Regions from separate parts of the Homo sapiens genome. Here region 2 is linked to region 1. Evidence: fine-mapped expression QTL. A gene starts in region 1. The other region holds a variant in brackets. All regions are shown on one strand. Distances are from middle to middle. Region 1 holds the start of MITD1 (microtubule interacting and trafficking domain containing 1). Region 2 overlaps AFF3 (ALF transcription elongation factor 3).

Evidence for each region. PIP is the estimated chance that this variant, and not a neighbour inherited with it, causes the effect. A credible set is the group of variants that fine-mapping cannot tell apart.
Region 2: its variant is the best candidate, but not a certain one, in a credible set for the expression of MITD1 in whole blood (TOPMed, PIP 0.66).

The regions. Positions count from the first base shown.
Region 1 is chr2:99,179,619-99,182,658 of GRCh38, forward strand. It overlaps MITD1 (microtubule interacting and trafficking domain containing 1), which reads right to left and starts at 1,440. Exons shown (of 7, transcript NM_138798.3): 1 at 1,213-1,440. The coding sequence starts at 1,363. It overlaps MRPL30 (mitochondrial ribosomal protein L30), which reads left to right and starts at 1,566. Exons shown (of 6, transcript NM_145212.4): 1 at 1,566-1,631. RefSeq lists enhancers at 1,108-1,247, 1,258-1,487, 1,508-1,557 and a silencer at 1,775-1,947.
Region 2 is chr2:99,796,763-99,799,262 of GRCh38, forward strand. All of the region lies in intron 8 of AFF3 (ALF transcription elongation factor 3), which reads right to left. Among named protein-coding and RNA genes, the nearest start is that of REV1, 310 kb to the left of the region's middle. The variant C/T (reference allele first, on the strand shown) is at 1,179.

The sequences.
Region 1 (3,040 bases):
GTGGCGCGATCTCGGCTCACTGCAACCTCCGCCTCCCGGATTCAAGCAATTCTCCTGCCTCAGCCTCCCAAGTGGCTGGGACTACAGGTGCGTGCCACCATGCCCGGCTAATTTTTGTATTTTCAGTAGAGACGGGGTTTCACCATGTTGGCCAGGATGGTCTCGATCTCTTGACCTCATGATCCACCTGCCTCGGCCTCCCAAAAAAGTGCTGGGATTACAGGAGTGAGCCACCGCGCCCGGCCGGTAGAGTTTGTAGTTCTGACCAAAGCACCAAACCATAAAGGGCTCCCCTCTGCTGCCCCAAAGCTTCTGTAACACTTTAATTATAAGAAGCTTAAACTAGAAAGAACAGAGGGAGCTTAGTCCAGACCGGGAGTGTCGGGGGTTGGGGAGCAGGAGCTGATCTTATCAATTTAATACATAAATATTGAGTGTCTACTGTGAGCCAGGGTTGTGCTGGGTGTTAAGGAATATTTGGGTATTTCTCAACATTGAATAATACGAAAAGTCTCACTTGTCTCCTCCACAACCCTGCGCATTTCTCACACCGAACCTCATCCGTTTAAGAAAAACTTTTCTTCTTCTACCGCTACATAATTTTACTTTGGCTTGCTTTAAATGCAAATGTTTAAACAGAAAATTAAAAATAATCGTATAATAAACACCCTTATTACCCATCACCGAAATTTTTAAAATTAGCATTTTTGCTCAAATAGAGCTTCGATTTTTAAGAAATTTTTGCTTAAGGAAAATTAACTAAAGACATCATAGCATCTCTTTCTAAAACACTTTGGTCTGCATCTCTAAAAATTAAGGAAAGTTTTGGAAAAAAAATCATATTGCCTAAGAAAATAATTTTAATGCCCCCCAATCTATATTCAAACTTTTCTAATAGATCCAAAAATGTCTTTTAAAGTTCGTACAAACCCAGGTCCTATCAAAGCTTATATATTACATTGCGTTATATCTTATATCTCTTAAGTCTTTTAAAATCTAGACTAGTAGCCTCCCCACCTTTTCTAGGTAACATCAATCTATTAAAGATCTAAAAGAAAGCGGCCCAGTTGTCCTATAGAATATCCCACCTTCTGTATTTAACTGCTTCTTCGTGGTGTGGAAAAATCATTTTTAACTCTTTCACTTCACCCCAGACACAGCAGGAACCAGCTCCTTTTCCTCAGGTCCTCCCCGCCTTGGCTCATTGCTCACCTTTCAGAACCTGCAGGAGCAGATCAATCCCCTCTTGGTAACACACCAGAGCCTGCGGATACCGCGACTCCGAATCTAGTTCTACTGCCCGCTTTAGCACAGTGGCTGCAGCTGTGCTCTGCGGGTCCTGCCTCAGCCCGGACTTCGCCATAATTCTGGAAGTTCTCCTCCGCCTCAACCCAGGATGAAGTTGAGCGGGTCTGCTGCGCTTCCGGGAAGTGGTCATGTGATACCCAGGCGCCTGCGCTCTCTTTCTAGGGACTTTCCTGAGTGGGAGGGATTTCGCCGGAACAAAAATGCCTCAGTTTGGAGGTCGCGCTCACTGCGACGGCAGGCTTTGAGTGTAGCACTTGGTAGTTCTTCCTCTGCTCTGCTTCCCTTCGGAGGAAAATTTCAGGCTGAAGGTTTAGCGGGTGCCGGTGAGTGGGGAATGAGTGGCGGAGAGTGCGGCATTCTTCGCAAGGTGTATCCGGGAACCCTCTGCAGATCCTAATTGATTTTCCCTATTGCGTACTGAATTGGCCGGTTACGGCAACCTAAATGGGTCTGCCCCTGATCCCGTCACATTGGCTCCCGTAAGGCCATTGGCCTGCAGGATCCCCCCGTTTCCCAATTTGCAGGATCCAGGGCCACGCGGCTTTTTGTGCCCAGACTCTTGGAGCTCAAGAACGGAGCCGCCGAGGCTGGACAGCTTGGGAAAGGGAACCCAAGCAGCATTTTCTGTGCTGCTGCTTTATTCATAACTTAGGGTTGCCACTGGGTATTAAGGTTGCTTTTTTTTTTTTTTAATGAAGACAGAAAATTGCCTTTATCTTTGTATTGCTTCATTTTATAATGCAAACATCCAAGAGTTGGCAGTTAGAATATTTGCCATTTTATTAAAACTGTGATTTGTTACCATTTTGATCGAGACCTACCAAAAGCTGTTTGTTCTGCCCTTTTTGCCAAGAGGCAGTAATGAGGGCTGCCTACTGCTTGTTAGGCACTAGGAGTTCAGAGAAGAGACACGCTTCCAGCTTTCAGAGATCTCTGGTATCTCTGCAAGAGTGATTCCATGTTTTGCATTTCAGAAGTGTTTTTCCCCCTTTAATAATTGTATACATTGTCGGTTTAGAAAAAGAAATCGATTTTTAACATTCCTGTTGCATGCATGCTCATTGTAAAAAGACAAAAGAACTATCGGTCGCTGGGGGGGAGAAGGGGGAGGAAAAACGCCTTTTTTCATACCCCCAGGGGTATGTTAACGTTTTTCTGACAACCTTCCAGAGTTTTTCTGTGATTACACACGTTCACAGACATTTAAAAAAATAGAAATGGGATCATACTTCTCCTGTGATGCCTGATATTTTCCTGTTTTACAGAAGACAGCGTAATTGTTTCAGGGTCCAGGAGTTACGTGCCTAATTATTAACAGTAACTTTTACTTTATTAAAACGTATTCCTTGCCGGGCGTGGTGGCTCACGCCTGTAATCTCAGCACTTTCGGAGGCCGAGGCGGGAGGATCACGAGGTCAGGAGATCGAGACCATCCTGGCTAACACGGTGAAACCCCGTCTCTACTAAAAATACAAAAAATTAGCCGGGCGTCCGGGCGGGCGCCTGTAGTCCCAGCTACTGGGGAGGCCGAGGCAGGAGAATGGCGTGAACCCGGGAGGCGGAGCTTGCAGTGAACCCAGATCGTGCCACTGCACTCCAGCCTGGGCGACAGAGCGAGACTCCGTCTCAAAAAAATAAATAAGATAAAATAAACGTATTCTTTGAGTCAAACGTGGTGACACACACCTAGCTCCAATTACTGGGAAAATTGAGGATTGCTTGAGGCTGAGTT
Region 2 (2,500 bases), 620 kb after region 1:
ATCTGAAAGGATTACAGAAAAAAATACCAGGTGCTTACAAGGCCAGGAACAGAAATTGTGCTCACCAGCCAGACTGTAAAACCTTATAATTAACAGGGCATTGGATAGAGCACTCAAAAGAATCTTGCCTCAGAACTAGGCAATAATTAGCCATAGACTAAATGATGCTCTTTCTCACCTGACAAACTGTGGAGACAAAACCCAAAACAATCACACTATTTCCAAGTAACTTAACTACATCCCAGAACAAAGCACAGGGAGATCTGTAGAAACACAAAAAAGCAAAACTCTGTCTGGGTCCAACCAAAGATTACCAGATAGACAGATCACCATACGTGCAAAGAAGCAAGAAAGTGCAACCCATAGTGAGAAAAAAATAAGACAACCCAGAAAGGCCACAGGTGTCAGACTTATTGGACAAAGATATTAAACAGTTACTATTTGTAATATGTATGTCCAAAAAGTTAAGTAGAGACATAGAAGATATACCAAAGACCCAAACTGAGTTTTCATCTAGAGATGAAAACTATATGAAATGCAAATATACATTGAATGCAATTAATGGTAGAATAGAGATTGTAAAAGAAAACATTAGTGAGCTTGAAGACATAACAACAGAAACTACACAAAATGAAATACAGAGAGAAAAAAGAGCATAAGTAAACTGCAGAATGACTTCATGTGTGATCTAATGTACATAAAATTGGAGTCCCTACAGGAGAAAGGGGAGGGTAGAAAATATATTTAAATAAATAATGAAGGAACAAAACTGTAACATTTGATAAAAAACATAAATCTACAGATGTAAGAGACTCAGTTATGATAGGTACAGTAAACATGAAGAAAGCTACAAAAGGACAAAGTATAATCAAATTGCTCAAAACCAGTGGTAAAAGAGAAACATTTAAAAGCAGCCAGAGAAAGACGAAACAGAGATTAGGATTACAACAGATTTACTGTTGGAAACAATGCAAGTAAGAAGACAGTGGAACAACATCTCCAAAACATGGAAAGAAAATAAATAACTCCAAAATATATATATGACAAAAATATTTGTCAAAAACTAAGGTAAAATACAGACATTTTCAGATATGCAACAGCTGGAAAAGTTCATAACCAGCAGATCCGCACTATGGAAAATGTTAAAGGAAGCCCTTGAGGCAGAAGGAAAGTGCTAA[C/T]AGACGGAAATATAAATATACCCAAAGCAATAAAGAGAACTGAAAAATGGTAAGTCTATTAAACATATTTTATAATTTGAATATGTTTAAAATATAATTGATTAGTTAAGAAAAAAATTATATTTTTGGAGTTGATAACATATACAAGTAAAATGTTTGACAACAATAGGAAAAAGGTGGCTGGGGAAGGAGTAATGAAGAATTGCAAGGTTCTTACACTGAACATGAAGTGGTAAAATATTACTTGACAGTAAGCTAAAGATGTCTACTATAATTCCTAAAGCAACCACTAAAATAACAAAGCAAAGAGTAATAGCTAATAAGACAACAAATGAGATTAAATGAAAACAAAAAAATAACTCAATGCAAAAGAAGACAGGACAAGAGGAAAGGGCAATAATTATTCAATTACATTAAATAATTGCATTCAATGCTAACTGCATTGAATTACATTGAATGTAATTATTGATACGGTTAGGATTGTCTATTTTCCATCCTGTTTTTATTTATCCAATCAGATAAATAATAAATAATATATGTAAACACTATAAAATCCCAGTTAAAAGACAGAAATGAGCAGACTGCATTAAAAGATCAAGACCCAATTATATGCTATTTATAAGAAATATACTGTAAGTATAAGAAAAACCAAATAGATTAAAATAAAATGATAGAAATATATATTACATGCTAACATTAATCAAAAGAAAGCTGAATTGGCTATATTAATATTAAGGTAGATCTTAACGCAGCCAGGGATAAAGAAGTTTATATCACATTGTCTAACGGACCAATCAATATGACGTAAAAATCTAAATGCTTATGTGCCTAACAGCAGAGCTTCAAAATACACGAAGCAAAAGTGAATACAACTTCAAGGAGAAATAGACAGTCCCTTAATTATAGTCAGAGATTTCAGTATCCTGCCCTAGTAATTGATAGAATACATAGGAAGAAAATTAGTCAGACTTTTCTGACTAATGTAGCCTTGAACAACACTATGACACCATGGTCTAGGTAGAAAATGTAATGAAATCTACAGAAAAAGCTACTAAAATTAATAAGTTAGTTTCACAAAGTTGCAGGATACAAGATCAGTAAACAAATATAAATTACATATCTATATGCCAGCAACTAGTAAATATAACCTGAAATTTAAAGATAAATGCCATGTATACTAGTATCAAAAATAAAACATACTTAGGAATAAATCTGACAAAAGATGTTCAAGTCCTGTATATTAAAAACTATAAAACACTGCAGAGAGAAATTAAAGAGATCTAAATCTCTAATGGTAGAACAGAGATTATAAAAGAAGCACT